Homo sapiens: one gene and its partner. The protein of the gene in region 2 purifies or fractionates together with the protein of the main gene of each other region. This does not show direct contact. Each region holds a gene or a part of one and is shown on either strand. Other genes may lie near its edges.

Region 1 (8,598 bases), on a different chromosome or scaffold from region 2:
ATTGTCAAGAAAACAAATCCTTAGTGTGGGAAAATACTCCATTCACTTTTATTGTTGAAACAATTAAAAAATTAGCTGAAAGTGCCCTCGCCTCCTAAAGATATCCTGATGTTGATCTTAATATTAAGTAATGAAAAATCTTCATAGTAAGTATACCCAATCACATTGATTAGCTCCCTTTCCGCAACTGGCTAAAGGTAACGAACTCAGAAAAATGATGAAAATACTATTTTAAGAAGAAACACTACGCTCTCGAAGGACTATAATTGGCACTAATCTCCTACATTACTTTATTTAGGAACAGTCCATCTAAGACACGGATACTTTGAACCTAAATTTATTTGTATTTTAATGGGACTAATAGTAGTTAGACTTGCTTTATTTGTGTGTGTGTGTGTGTACATATACACACACACGTAAAGGACATGCTACCCTTCATATTTCCAACATTCAATAATTATTAATCATCATGAATCTCATATAATTAAGTTGGGGAAAGGTTGATTTCCATTTAAACTGCTTATGTTATCAGAAAACTATCTTTTTCTTTTTTCTTTTTTTTTTTTTTTGAGATAGAGTCTCACTCTGTCACCCAGGCTGGAGTGCAGTGGCACAATCTTGGCTCGCTGCAATGTCCACCTCCCGGGTTCAAGCGATTCTCCTGCCTCAGCCTCTGGAGTAGCTGGAATTACAGGTGCATGCCATCATGCCTAGCTAATTTTTGTAATTTTGGTAGAGACAGCGTTTCACCATGTTGGCCAAGCTGGCCTTGAACCCCTAACCTCAAGTTACCACCTGCCTCAGCCTCCCAAAGTTCTGGGATTGCAGGCGTGAGCCACCGTGCCTGGCCCAGAAAGTTATCTTTTTCAAATTAATCTTATAAAAAAAAATTTATATAATAAAAGCCTGATACTTTGAAATTATAAATGTTTTTCTTTTGTATTCTGAGGGAATAAAAATATTGAAAATAAGCTTTATAATCAAGCCATTAAGATATTACCTTTAAAATATATCAATATATTTTATTGGTTTATTAAAAATTATGTCAACATATAATGCTCTCAGTAATTTAGCCAAGGTCAGACTACCTCAGTAACCTTAGAATTTCCTGATTTTGTTCCTTTTTGAAAGTAGATGAGGCCGGGCACGGTGGCTCACGCCTGTAATCCCAGCACTTTGGGAGGCCGAGGCTGGCGGATCACGAGGTCAGGAGATCGAGACCATCCTGGCTAACACGGTGAAACCCCGTCTCTACTAAAAATACAAAAAAATTAGCCGGCCGTGGTGGCGGGCGCCTGTAGTCCCAGCTACACCGGAGGCTGAGGCAGGAGAATGGCGCGAACCCGGGAGGCGGAGCTTGCAGTGAGCCGAGATCGCGCCACTGTACTCCAGCCTGGGCGACAGAGCGAGAGTCTGTTTCAAAAAAAAAAAAAAAAAAAAAAACAAAGTAGATGAAAAAGGAATTATTTTATGTTTCATGTTTCAGAATGATGTAAATTTATGTTGCTTGATTTGTGGAAGTCATAATCTAAAAAAAACAGCTTTCATATTTTTCAATTTGATATAGATTTTATAGTACTTTGGTGGAAATTACTCTGGAATTAATATTCTCTTTCTGTCACTGGAATTAATCTAACACTACTTTGAAATCGAGTATGATTCTACTACTTTGAAATACGTGTGTTTTAAAAACATTTTTGTAATTTTGTATGATATTTAGTATCTCATTTGTCTTTAACCTGGTTTTGTATACAAAGTAGCTGTTTATATATAAATGCTTAGCATTCTCCCAAAATTTAGCATGCAAAGATACTTGTAGATCCTTAGTAAAATGCATCTTTCCAGGTCCCATTATCTGATACTCTTATTGAAGCTTGGATGAGGTCTTTACTATATTTTTAATAAGTGAGTTAGGTGACTCTGGTGTAAATGATCCATAAACTACATGCTGGGAAAACGGTTTTATTTTGATTATCTATTTTTATAGAGTTTTACCTACTGTGTAACTGACTAGAGTATGGGAACTTAACATTTATACGTATCTGTTTAATGCAGTCTGATACCACAGACTTGAGCTGTCCAGTATGGCAGCCATCAGACATGTGTGGTTATTTAAATTAGATTTTAAATTTAAATTTAAGCCCTAAACAGTGTTTCATTGATGATTAATAGTTACTAATATATAAGAAAAGGTAACATCATTAATGTAAAAAGAAATCTGAAGTAATGGTTAATGAGAAACTATAAAGAAGTGTGATCGTGATTAATGATACTTACTGTGAAACACGCTGCAAGAGCCCAAAGGCCCAAGATCCAAGTCAGTGATTTCATCCTTTCAGTTGCCTCTGAAAGTAAGCACAATAGGTGATCAGTATGATTGTTTTTTATTAAAAAGTACTATTTAAAATGTCTCAACACTTGGATATAATGTAATACAAATATCCTACTATAGCATTTTTAGGGAATTTGCCTAATGTTATTTTGAATTCAGTATTACTGTGGGGCAATATTAGTAGGCTTATAAAATTTGACTTCAAAATAGTGGAAGTAGTTTTTATTTTTGACTTGTAAACTGATCCTGGGGATAATGCCAAAGAGTTGTTCATACATTGCTCTGAGCAATAGAAGCTTTTATGACTAAGGTTTTTCCCTTAGAAGTAACTACTTTAAAATGTATACTTATTTTCATTTGAACATTTTGATATTTTAAAAATAGTAGATACATTATAGATTTCTATGGATGGGTTTGAGATATTAACATTTTAACTAGATCTTATGTTACAAATTTTATTGCTTGGAAGAGCTTAAAAATAAGGAAAAAAAAAAGGAATCACCCTGTTGGATATAGTCTAAAAGAAGAGTCACATAATATATTTCCTAGTTTTAACAACATTCTATTACATTAATTTAGGCTGTGATGAGTGGTCTCAAAGTGCTTCCAAAAATCCATATATCAGAGACCAAGGCAAGAACATGGAGATGTCCAGGTATTCTACTCTCAATTGGGTCAAATTTTACAATATATTTCAAGTACATGATAGCTTGATTTTTGGGAAAGCAACTCCATACACCATGGTGCAAATTGGCTTCCTGTTAGTCAACTCTGCACATAGGTTGAGTGTGTGGTCTGAGCAATGCAAGTCTTGAAAGAATCCTATGGACAAAATTTCACTGGATATTCAATTATATATATGTGGGTGTGGCTATTCCTTTAACTAGTACTTTTCCTATATCCATTCTTAAATTAAGTTTGAAAAACAAAAGAAAAACCAATAATAAAAATATTCTGTAGAGCAATTCTGTCTTTTAGAGTACACCTGAGACTATTCTATCCTTATGAAGTTTCAAGAACTTTAAGGTACATCAGGAGGAAAAGTCAATTGTGTACTTGGATGGACCGATTGGCCCAAATGCCCAACATGAATGTTTTACTCTGACCTGTAAAAACCAGAATTTTTCAAAATTTATTGCATTTAATGACTTACAATTTCATGTAAGCTACTTATGTTTTTGCTGATAATGAATGTTCTATGAAAAGCCCATAAAATGTTATCGTTGAAAATGTTATCTTTGAGAAAAATTTCAATATTCAAAGTAAAAATATTCAGTTTATATTTCCAAGTACCTACCTTTGTGTGAGGATCTGTCTTACAGTTGATTAATCTGCTGGTCAAAATGACTCTTGCCAGTTGAAAGACGGCAAATAAAGGTGAAAAGGGACAAGAAATCTTAGCTCTTATATATTGTAATGGATTTCTGTTGGCAATAAGAGAAAGGCTATTCGGAAATAAAATAACTTCCGAGTTGATGCTCTTCAAAGATAGGAAAGTTGTTCTTGCCAATTTGGCAGTCTTTTTCTGGATTTTTTTTCATTCCTGAAAAGCATTGACCTGTTCAACATTTGCTGTTTCCTGAGGAAACAGATACAACAAATCATAATATCCTATCACCTCAGAAAAACAATCTGGGGCCTGTGGTGCACCATTTCCTCTTTATTTCAAAGGAAAAGCTGGCACGAGTTTTTTCTGTTCCAAGTGATTTAATGGGCCATCTTTTGTTATTTGCTAGTCTCATCATATTTTCTATTTTATTTCAAAGGCCTCCATATGTGCGAAATACAAATATTTTTAAACTGAATTCTAACATGATCAGGAGAACCTAGGGGAACAAAAATGATAATTAAAATTAAAAGTGCCTAATTAAATAAATATTGCTAAATACCACACACACACACATGCACGCAGGTACGATGCATGGCCAGTAATGTAAAGAATATCTAAAATTTCACTTGACTGTTTTGATCACTTTGCTATATGTTGTGGGTTTCATGTTTCTATTTTTTGGTTGAAATAATGAAATTGTATTATTGTTTTGTGCTTGAAAGTTTGTATATATCTTATCCTATGTATGGTTTTTCACAGTTGTCTTCATTGAGTAGATGTTTCTGAAGGATGATGAAAATGAGTGCTGCTATTAAGATTTGGATCTAAGTTTCAAAAAAGCAGGAAAGAAAAATCTAGTGGTGGAAGAGGGATAATAGTCAGAAGGTTCATGCAGTTTCTCAGTCTTAACTATATTTCATTTCTTTGTGATTATCTTAAGTTAGTAGACTATTTACAAGACCTTATATATGCATTTTTTAGGAAGTTCCTTTTGCCAGTGAAGAACTAAATGAGAACAACTGTGTTTTAAAAATCATGTGGTCCTTGCCATTATTAACTTGAGACATTTAATTAAATAAAAATATAATGACAAGCAAAATTTTTGATTATGGCAAAATTATACGGATATCTTGACTTTGAAGTGGATGTCTAATGGAAAATTACAGCCTTGTTTTTTTGATAAATCTAGGCTTTGAGCATAATTTTTCCTAAGCTAGATGATCCTATAATCTGTAGTTTTGACACATTATTATTTAATAATAACAGCTATTACTTATTAAACCTTTAGCATATTCCACGTGGCAGGATAAAATGAGTTCTATTGTTATCTCTGTTGTACACATAGATGACATAGATGCTAACTAGCTAAGTGGGGCTTGACCTAAGTCTTCCCACTGAGTGAAGACCTAAGTCTCCCTACAGGGGCCTGAGTGAGTTTTTAACCAGCATTCCATGTTGCTCCCCAAATCTTAATAATCACCATACACTTAACTAACTTTATGTTACAGTACACTGTAGAGATGAATCAAGTGAACTTAATAGTCAGGTAATTCTACTTCAAAGCCAAATACCAACAATTCTTTGCTGGGTTATATGAGACAAGCTATTTTATCTCATTGTGTTTCAATTTCTTCATTTGAAAAATGTGTATATTTATAATTTTTAGGTCATGAAGTTTACAACCAACCTTCCTTTCTCCCCTCCCCTCCCCTCCCTCCCCTCCCTCCCCTCTCTCCTTCCCTCCTTCCCTCCTGCCCTCCTTCCTTCCTTCCCTCCCTCCCTCCTACATTTATTGAATATCTGCTGGGTACAAGACATAGTGCAAGTTGCTGAATTTACAGCATATCTAAGTGCTTAGTGTTTTAAAAATCCTTTGTGAGGTGGGATAGCAATAAAGAAGCTGCACTTCCAGAGTTGATGTTAGTTTTGAATGACTCTTCTTAATTTCATTTACTTTGTTGGAGTTTCACTGCCTTTAAAAAATTCTGATGACTTAATTAAGTGTAATACAATATACTCCTGGTTTGCTAATCTTAGCCCTTAATATGTTGCTGAATGATTACATGCCCCAACATCAGTGAAGATGGTTCTATTCCTAATTAACATAGAAATTTCCACTTCTTTCTTTGATGATAATTCAGTTTGTCAAAAGCTGAATATCTCTTCTTTCTTGTTTTGATGCCAACATATTCACCAGCCAAATGTCTGAAGTCAAAGTGGGATCTACATTGTAATGGATCATTGGCTCTGAGGGATTTAGGATGAACGCTGGCAAAACCGAAAGACAATTTCTGAGTGGTTTGTGACCAGAAAGAATCTGAGGAACACAAATAAATGGAAGCACACATCTGTTAAGAAACAGGAACAGTCACTCAAATTAATCTTTAATTAACTTATGGCTTTAGAAGATCCTGACTCAATACTTACTAGAACAATATATAAAAGAGCTAATGTCTCTGGCCACAGGAAATTAAAAAAGTGACAGTAGAGAAAAATTATTGTTAGTGCAGAGATTTACGTGACAGATGGAAAATATTTTCTTAATAGAGGTAGATTAGCAGAATTAAATTCAGTCATGCAGCAACATATTTGAAGTCTGATTTCCTGTTGTATTATACTCATTTCCACTGAAATATAGCAATCATCATAGTTTCTTTGGACCTATGAAAAGTATGTGCTTCTTCTTGATTATCCAGAAGGAAGTGATATTGTTTCTGGGATAATGCCACCTGAAATACTTATCATGCTTTAGAACTTACAGATTACCTTGAAAATTTCTGTGGAAATATTGTTGTGTAGGATATCAATAATGCCATTGAGCTCTGAGAGAAAATATGTTCTCTTGGATTGAAGTCTAGCATGATGAAATGTAATTAACAATAGAACTTGTAGACTGAAGAAAAGTTAATATCTCTAACTTGTGCAGCATGGATGCTTCAAGAAACCCACATCACATAGGTCTGTAAACTTTCTGGAAGTTGACAACAAATTTGCCCTGAGATTCCAAGTAGCCAAAGTTGAAAAAGAAAGAAATCAGGTAAAACATTTACGATGTCCATAAAATATAATCATGGTAATTTCTTGAGAAAAGTAGCTTTGCTTTCCACTGAGAGTCATGGGAAAATTTCCCAATAGTTTTAAGCAGAAGGTCTATTTTTCTATAGTAAATGCCAAATTGGTCTTTGTAGTATAACCGGGATGTCCCCAGACTGTGAATGTAAACAAAGATACAATTGCCCTTTAATCAGAATTTTGCTAGATTGATAACCTCAACCATGTAACCACATAAATTCAGTTCCCCTTTCAAAATCTTTTTGGGGAATATTCCTGGATTCATCTTAATTCTAAAAATATATTTTCTTTGCTGTAATATTATTTTTACCAAAACAAATCTAGTCATACACATGTTTTCTCTGTAAATGACATCAAGTACTTTAAAAATTTTAAACCATTAGTGTAATACATTTATTGTATAGTAAATCATGCTATATTTATTTTCTCATTGAATATTCAAGATAACTGCAAGACATAGGAAGATGTTAATGTCTTATTTATTTATTTATTTATTTTTGAGAAGAAGTCTCATTCTGTCACCCAAGCTGGAGTGCAGTGGCATGATCTCGGCTCACTCCAACATCTGCCTCCAAGGTTCAAGCTATTCTCCTGCCTCAGCCTCCTGAGCTGCTGGGATTACAGTCACGAGCCACCATGCCTGGCCTATTTTTGTATTTTTTTTTTTTAGTAGAGACCGGGTTTCACCATGTTGGCCAGGCTCGAACTCCTGACCTTCAGTTATCCACCCACCTCAGCTTCCCAAAGTGCTGGGATTACAGGCATGAGCCACTGTGCCTGGCCAATGTCTTAGTGTTTTAAATGAAGAAAGAACATCAGAGAGGGGCAGAATTAATACTAAGATCATGTTGGGCTTGTATAATAAAGTTATTACTAAAATTTATATATAGTCTATTGGTAAGAATTTGTTACTTAAAAATGATGAGGGACTCTAAAAATGAAATCTATTGAAAATAATGAAGGATTAAAAATGTTTAAAAAATGAAAGATACACATATTCTAACCTAAAAGTTAGTACAAATGCCTTAAATTACAGCTTTATATTTTGGAGTAAAACAGTGTATTGTTCCCTGAAATGGAAATGAAAAGACCTCAGTTCCAGAATTGACTTTGGTAAAACGAATGACTTATTTTACAATGAACTGTGATTTCAGGTGTTTTAAACTTTTGATATTTGACAAACATTCCAAAATCAAATTATAAATTATGTCTTTTTCTGACCTAATTAATCTTTTACGATATCAGATTCCCTAAAGTCCAAAAATGACATAATTTGGTTTATTTGGTATAAAAATTATACAAGAAATGTCACGCGCTTCCGTGTGAAGAGAGTCCAACAAACAGGCTTTGTGTGAGCAACAGGGCTGTTTATTTCACCTGGGTGCAGGCGGGCTGAGTCCGAAAAGAGAGTCAGCAAAGGGTGGTGGGATTGTCATTAGCTCTTTTTTTTTTTTAAATTGTTATTATACTTTAAGTTTTAGGGTACATGTGCATAACATGCAGGTTTGTTACATATGTATACATGTGCCATGTTGGTGTGCTGTACCCATTAACTTGTCATTTAGCATTAGGTATACCTCCTAATACTATCCCTCCCCCCTTCCCCCACCCCACAACAGTCCCCGGTGTGTGATGTTCCCCTTCCTGTGTCTATGTGTTCTCATTGTTCAATTCCCACCTGTGAGTGAGAACATGAAGTGTTTGGTTTTTTGTCCTTGTGATAGTTTGCTGAGAATGATGGTTTCCAGCTTCATCCATGTCCCTACAAAGGACATGAACTCATCATTTTTTATGACTGCATAGTGTTCCATGGTGTATATGTGCCACATTTTCTTAATCCAGTCTATCATTGTTGGACATTTGG
Region 2 (8,316 bases):
AGATCGTGCCATTGCATTCCAGCCTGGGCAACAAGAGTGAAACGACGTCTCAAAAAAAAAAAAGTCAAAACAATGGGAAATTCTAGGAGCATGGAAGCTTAGAACTGTTAAATAATCTTACATAACTTCTATGACATACCTGTCTTGATTAAAAGTAGGCATTAAAAAAAAAAGGCTGGGCACAGTCGCTCACACCTGTAATCCCAACACTTTGGGAAGCACAGGTGGGCGGATTACTTAAAGGTCAGGAGTTCAAGACCAGCCAGGCCAACCTGGTGAAACCCCGTCTCTACTAAAAATACCAACAAATTAGCTGGGCATGGTGGTGGGCACCCGTAATCCCAGCTACTCTGGAGGCTAAGGTAGGAGAATCTCTTGAACCTGGGAGGCAGAGGCTGCAGTGAGCAGAGATCGTGCCACTGTACCGCAGCCTGGGCGACAGAGCAAGACTCCATCTCAAAAAAAAAAAAAAAAAAAACCAGCCTAACTACTCATGTGGCTGAGGCCAGAGGACTGCCTGAGCCCAAGAGTTCAAGGCTGCAGTAATCTATGATCATGCCACAGTACTTCAGCCTGGGTGACAGAGCAAGATACTATCTCAATAACAAAATATAAAAATAAAAGTTTTTTTATTTGAAAAAAGCCTAAGTAGCTGGAGCTCAAGAACTAAATTCTAGGCAAGGTATATGCCAAAGGAAAATACAACAATTAATCCCAAAACAATAGATAATGCAAAGCTTATAATGTGAATTAAGCCACTTCCATATTCTACAGTCTCTTATAAAAATCTCCCAAATTCCTTCAAAGAATACACCTAATAAGGAAGGTTTTATTGATATACACATAATTACTTGCATACATAAGAGATGGATTCAGAGGGAAAAAGGAAAGTATAGTATTTCAAATGGTCAAAAGATTTTTTTAAAATCTTTTTCTTACTAAGGCTGGCTGATATTTAGAAAGGGTCAAGCTATTCTAAAATGGTGATGTTTGCACAACACTGTGAATGTAATTATTTTGTTTATTTTTTTAAAGACAGAGTCTCACTATGTTGCCTGGGCTGGTCTCCAACTCCTGGGGCTCAAGCAATCCTCTCGCCTCATCATCCCAAAGTGCTGGGATTACAGGCATGAGCCACCCCGCCTGGTTGGTGAATGTAATTAAATCTGTCATGGAAAGTTTAAATCCGTTGTAAGAAGCATGTGAAGACTCCATGTTGATAAAACAACTTTCATAACCCAACACATTCAGATTAAAAACACGGCAAAACCCACCTCTACTAAAAATTTTTTAAAAATTAGCCGGGTGCGGTGGCATGCACCTCGTGGTCCCAGTTACTTGGGAGGCTGAGGTAGAAGGATCACTTGTACCTGGGAGGTCAAGGCTGCAGTGAGCTGTGATCTGGCACTGCACTCCAGCTTGGGCGATAAAGCAAGAACCTGTCTCGAGAAACCAAACCAAGCCCTCCACACATCCCCCAAACCTAACTCACTACCACAGTATGTTTGAAAAGCTAGGGATCTGTGCCAACACCCTTAGGAAAAAGTCTTTCCCTTCCCAACAATCTACTTATTAAGCAATAATTTTTTTTATATGTTAACCTGCAACACACCTGAGTTAATTTCACTAAACCACAATTAACTCTTAATTATCATGACAATAATGGAGAATAAAAGCGTCCATAATCAAATTCCAGAAATAATCCTTTTAGTACAAGAGCCTCTTCCCTGACCCCAGTTACATCAGGGCCCATGTCCTCTCTCCAAAAGAAAATAAAGACGTTTGGTGGTTAATGTTCCTTTTTCTAAACTTCATGTACAGCAGAGCTTACGGTCCAGAGAACTCAGTCCTCAAAGAAACTGATACTATAGCTATCTAACTGGATACCACCGGTAATAAATTACCCAAAGCTAAGATTTCACGCTTTTTAAAGCCCATATTAATAATGCCTGTCTGGTCATAAGTCACACTACCAAAAGGCTTAAATAAATTAATCCACATACATTACGGAGAAGAGCAAAATGCTTATGACAATATTAAAATGAGTGTGAAAAAAATTTAATTAAAACTAAACACTAGCGATAACAAATACTAATATATTTCAGAATCATTAATGATCAACACAATTAGAGGAAGATTCATTTTGATCCTTCAATTTCACCTTAACCCAAGGCTGTTTTAAATCGTGCCCTTTTTATCTTCCTGCTTTGTTGTCACTGAGGATCTCAATATGCCAGTAATAATGCTACGACATAAAATACACTATAAAGTAGCATTTTCATGGACTTTTTCAAGACAACTTCCACTGAGTTCTCAAGTTATTTACCCAGGATTTAGTCATACAGGATACCCACAGATTTTAATAAAGTGGCATGGCTAACCATCATGGAATTCAGGAAATCCATTAGCCAAAAAACTTAGGTGTACATGGTTTGTGAAGAGAGCTTAAGTGACAGGGCAAGCAACTGGTCTAAATGTTAGTATGCTACGAAAAAGTTGTAAACCCTCCCATACCCAAACAATTTAAAAATTTACAGACATGCACATTTTAAGGCAGCTAACATTAGGTCACAAATCAAACCAACGCTGTCATCTTTGCCTAAAGGCTGTTTATCACTAAAATATTCTACAGAATGGACGTAACCAAAGGTCACTTAAATAAAGATAGAACTAATTTTATTATTATACTGCCATACTACAACTACTACTGATTGAATTAAAATACCTATCCTCAGCACGCTTTTACTATAAAGTAGGAGTGCGTTCCCGTGTTAGAAAACTTTTAAAGTACTGATCTTACTGGGTGGGGTAAGTCAGGGTCCAACTGCACTTGTACTTTTATCCTACATATTTTCCTTCTACGTAAGACAGATGGGAATGTGATTAGCCCACCCCGACAGCACACCGGCCTAACACCCCCAAGCTCTAGCTAGGAGCCACGTTTTACCCGGGAAGACCGTTTCCCCACCCCTCCTTAATACAATGCCTGCGGCCACTGGAGACTCCTCCAGCCGAGCTCCAGAAACTCGCAGGTTTAAATGGCCAATCTGGAACCAACCGGGGCAGCTGTCATCTGAAACTCAGGAAAGCTGAGACCAGCCAACTCCACAGAACAAGGAAGGGTGCGGAAAGATGTGGCGGGGCCCGTCGGAGGGAACGCATCAAGCTCCCTCCCCCCGCCATCAATTCGCTTTTCTGCAACCCCGGCGCCGCCATCCTGATCCTCAATAATTAAACGGCCTGGAGAGGGAGTGAGGTGGCCAGAAGGGCAGCTTCGGGTCCGACTTCCCCGAGCCGAGCGGGGCGGTCGGCGAGGCCAAGGGCTACGTCCCCGGCGCTCAGAGGACTTTTCTTCAGGGCTGGGGCGGGAAGGGGCGACCCCCGCGGCTGGCAGGACAGCCGGAAGCGGAGCGCGGGGAATGACGTGGAAGAGGGGATGACAAAGGGGCGCGGGGGCCCGGCGCGGCCCGCGGGGGTCGGGACAGGTGGCCGGGCCTGGCCGGGAACAATGGGGGGCCGAGGCTGCCCCCTGGCGCTCACCTACCTCCGGTGCCCTCCGAGTTCTCGTTGAGGCTGCCCGAGGAGTCGTGCTGGGCGCCCACACACCCGCCCATGGGGGCCCCCGGCGCCTCGTCCGCCACCTCCGGACGCTCGTCCGGGCCCGCCGCCGCCGCCGCTGCAGCCTCCTCCGGCGCCACCGCCGAGCTCCGGACAGGCGCGCCGCTCCGCTCGCCCGCCGCGGCCCAGCCTCCGCCCCCCTCGCCGCTCCACCCACCGCCTTGGCTCGGCCCCTTCCTCCGCGCCCACTTCTACCTCAACCCCCGGGCCGCCCGCCCGGCAGGCCTGGCCCGCGCGCCGCCCTCGCCTTCGGCTCAGCCCCGCCAGGCCAGGGCTGGCCCATCCCGGGCGGGCCGCAGCGCCCGCCTCGCCCCCTCACAGCCCCGCACACCCGAGTCCAGGCGAGCCCCGCGCCGGCGCCTCGCGTCCGCCAGGACCCATCGGCCCCCGGCCCGCGGCGCCGCCCTCCGCACCCACGGCCTGGGCTCGGCCCGGCCCGCCCGGAATCGCCGGAGAAGGGCGGGGCCACCGGAGGCCGCGCTCTGATTGGCTGCGGGCGGGGCTGCGAGCGGAGCGGGGCGAGGGTGAGGCGGGGGAGGGGACGCAGGGGGCTAGGTGGGGGGAGGACTGCAGGCGGGGGGAGGACTGGAGGCGAGGGGAGGAGGAGAGAGGGAGGACGGGAAGAAGAAAGGAGAGGGAAGAAGGGAGGGAAAGCAGGAAAAAGCCGAACAAAAGTGAGAAAAGAGGAGTGGGAAGGGGCGAAATCGAGTTCCTGGCTCCTCGGCCGTCGGCTCCTTCTTGCTGGTGGAAGCGGGTCGCACGGGGGAACCGAGAAGTAGTCGTGGAAGACTCGCAGGCGGGGACGGGGCGGTTTCCCAAATAACGGGGGCTCGGGGGAGAGTGTCCTGGCCGAACGTTGAGGTCCCAGCGCCCTTTGAATTTGTATGGCGCTCCGTGGGTTGGTACCCCGAATCTGGGCTTCCTCTTGCCTGCCCACCCCCGTCTTCCCTAAAATCATGGGGCCCCATTATTAGGGGTGGAGGCAGTGGTTGTGGCAAACCAAACTGAGATTAGAGGCGAGGCGTCCTGATGGAACGCCTGGAAAGAAGAGATAAACGCTGACCTTAGTTCAGGGGGCGTGGGTTTCTTTCATTTTCACGGGATTAATGATTCAAACAATACTACTTATCAAGATCCTGCCTTTGGGTATCTTAAATCGTCCTTAGGCCAAAGTGAAGTGTAAATGAGTGAAACACCCTGCCTTTTCGAATCTAGAATTTGGGACATTGACCACGCCCAACATTCTTGGCGGTTACTTTTCCAATCTCAGCCAAATTGTTAATGGTCCCTTTAGAATTGTGCTTCGTGCTATGATGCCTTAAAATTGTTATCATCCTGCTTGGGACTTTCTAAAGCTTATTTCTGCCTAAGAAGCTGTTTTAACTATCTGCTCCATTTTTATATCAGACTTTCTTTTTTTAACATCCTGGGTCAGCTTTTGCTTAGCACGAAAAAAAATTTTTTAAGTTGAAATACCTAAGAAAGAGATGCTCTGCAGCTTGGGATTTGCATTTAAATATATTCTCATACATTGCTGGTGGGAGTGTAAATTGGTTCAATCTTTTTTGCAAAGCAATTTGGCAATGCAGATCAAGAGCCTTAAAAATGTTCATATCCTTTGACTCGGGATTATTCCACATCTGGAAATCTAGCTCACAGAAATAGATCAAGCTATTATACAAAGATTTAGATCTCTGTATTCATTTGATAAAAAGACAGTAGACAAGCAAAACCTACACTTAGGTTAAAACACAGAAATGTCGTGAGATATAGAAATCTGCTATATTAAACTCATCCTGAAGAATTAGTATTGTCCTCAGTTGTGGTCCTGAACATTCCAAAAAGAGCTTATGCCATCGATGTTATTATGAGTTTTCAGAGGTTGCTCTGACATCAGGGGCTGTGTCACAAAGCCTTCTGTCTGATCATTTTCAACTAACTATACACGTTGGCAGACACATCACTTCATCACTTCCCTGAAGAAGAGAAGCTGCATGCCGAATATTTGCAAAGAGATTGCTTTGTCCTGAATTTCACTCTAGAAATTGCAGAAACCAAGACTTCCACGATGTCTATTAAACAGATGGTAGGCACCCAAATGATGAGGGCTCTCCGATGAGCACTGAGGAGTTGGCACTAGGAAGAGAGAGCAATCTCGGGGAGAGATTCTCAGCAATAGATGTTCTCCACCCTGCCTTTATCTTAGAGACACATTTCCCAGGAGGCAGAGTAGTGTCGCAGTCAGGGCCCCAGCTTGGCGATTAACTTCCTGGATTGGAATCTGGCTTTCATCGTGTACTAGCTATATGGTCTGAAGTTTCTGCCAGACATGGTGGCTCACGCCTGTGATCCCAGCACCTTGGGAGGCTGAGGTGGGAAGCTCACTTGAGCCCAGCTGTTTCAGACCAGCCTGAGCAACATAGGGAGACCCTGTCTCTACGAAAAAATTTTAAAAATTAGCGGGGCGTGGTGGTGAGCGCCTGTAGTCCCAGCTACTCAGGGGGCTGAGGTGGGAGAATTACCTGAATCCAGAGAGGTGGAGGCTACAGTAAGCTGTGATCGCGCCACTGCACTCCAGTGTGGGTGACAGAGCGAGACCCTGTCTCAAAAAAAGAAAAAAGAAAGTTTGGCCGGGCACGGTGGTTCATGCCTGTAATCCTAGCACTCTGGGAGGCCGAGGCGGGCGGATCACGAGGTCAGGAGTTGGAGGCCAGCCTGGCCAATATGGTGAAATCCCATCTCTATTAAAAATACAAAAATTAGGCTGGGCGTGGTGCCTCATGCCTGTAATCCCAGCATTTTGGGAGGCTGAGGCAGGCGGATCACAAGGTCAGGAGATCGAGACCATCCTGGCTAACATGGTGAAACCCCGTCTCTACTAAAAATACAAAAAATTAGCCGGGCGTGGTGGCAGGCGCCTGTAGTCCCAGCTACTCAGGAGGCTGAGGCAGGAGAATGGCGTGAACCCGGAAGGCGGAGCTTGTAGTGAGCAGAGATCGCGCCACTGCACTCCAGCCTGGGCAACAGAGCGAGACTCCATCTCAAAAAAAAAAAAAAAAAAAAAAAAATTAGCCAGGCGTGGTGGCTCGCACCTGTAGTCCCAGCTACTTGGGAGTTTGAGGCAGAAGAATAGCTTGAACCCGGAGGGCGGAGGTTGTAGTGAGCTGAGATCTTGCCACTGCACTCCAACCTGGGCGATAGAGTGAGACTCCATCTAAAAAAAAAAAAAAAAAAAAGTTTATGTGGAGTTCAGTTTCCTCACCTGTAAAATTGGGCCAAAAATAATGCTCCAAACTCTGTGGGGCTTTTCATCAACTCTTTATTTCATGTCTAGCATCATCTATCTAAATTTACTGCAGGCAGGCACAGTGGCTTCGGCCTATAATCCCAACACTTTGGGAGGCTGAGGCGGGCAGACCGCCTGTGGTCAGGAGTTTGAGACCAGGTTGACCAACGTGGTGAAACCCCGTTTCTACTAAAAATTCAAAAATTAGCTGGGCATGGTGGCGTGTGCCTGTAATCCCAGCTACTCGGAAGGCTGAGGCAGGAGAATCACTTGAACCTGGGAGGCAGAGGTTGCAGTGAGCCGAGATAGCACCACTGCACTTTAGCCTGGGCCACAGAGCAAGACTGACTCCAAAAAAAAAAAACTGACTGCATAGCACTTTCTATCAAAACAATTCCTTCTTTGTGTGTGTGTGTGTGTGTGTGCACATGTGCTTTTCTACTGTTTTATAGTATCTTTATTAAGATATTCATATACCATGTATTTCACCAGTTTATTTTTAATTGACAAATAACTGTATTATGAGGTCACAGTGTGATGTTTAGATACATGTTTACAATGTGGAATGACTAGGCTAATTAACAAATCCATCACCTCACGTATTTGTCTTTTTTTTTTTTGAGACGTAGTCTTGTTGTTGCACAGGCTGGAGTGCAGTGGCACAATCTGAGCTCACTGCCACCTCTGCCTCCTGGGTTCAAGCGATTCTCCTGCCTCAGCCTCCCAAGTTACTGGGATTACAGGCGCCTGCCACCACGCCCAGCTAATTTTTGTAATTTTAGTAGAAATGGGGTTTCGCCATGTTGGCCAGGCTAGTCTCAAATTGCTGACCTCGTGATCTGCCCACCTTCGCCTCCCAAAGTGCTGGGATTACAGGCGTGAGCCACCGTGCCCCGAGCCACTGCGCCCCGTCCACGTGCTTCTCTTTTTTGTGGTGAAAACATTTAAGATCTACTCTGTTAACGATTCGGAAGTATACAGTGCATTATTATAGTCACCATTCTGTGCAGTAGGTCACTAATGCCTATTCCACCTAACTGAAACTTTCTACTCTGGAATCAATATCTCCCTTTTCCCCATCCACCCCCACCCCTTCACCAATTTACATTGTACAAGTCAATGGTTTTTAGTATATTTACTAAATATCAATAGTCAATGAATTTTAAAACATTTTTATCACCCTAAAAAGAAACCCTGTACCTATTAGCAGTCACTCCCCATTTCATTCTATCCCCTACCTCACCCCAGCCCTAGGCGACCACAAACCTTTCTCTTTTTTTTTTTTTTGAGACGGAGTCTCCCTCTGTCACCCAGGCTAGAGTGCACTGGCACAATCTCAGCTCTCTGCAACCTCGCAGTTGAAGTGATTCTCCCACCTCGGCCTCCCGAGCAGCTGGGACTACAGGTGTGCA

Evidence for each region.
Region 1: the proteins of UBTD2 (region 2) and SMR3B purify together in Homo sapiens (affinity purification with mass spectrometry; 3 studies listed by BioGRID and IntAct, with this or other methods). This does not show direct contact.

Annotation. Positions count from the first base shown.
Region 1 is NC_000004.12:70,378,244-70,386,841, reverse strand, and holds the start of SMR3B (submaxillary gland androgen-regulated protein 3B precursor), read right to left. Parts: upstream 3,712-8,598; 5' UTR 3,630-3,711; intron 2,346-3,629; 5' UTR 2,332-2,345; coding exon 2,278-2,331; intron 1-2,277.
Region 2 is NC_000005.10:172,280,052-172,288,367, forward strand, and holds the start of UBTD2 (ubiquitin domain-containing protein 2), read right to left. Parts: upstream 3,714-8,316; 5' UTR 3,615-3,713; coding exon 3,545-3,614; exon of another isoform or gene 3,541-3,544; intron 1-3,540.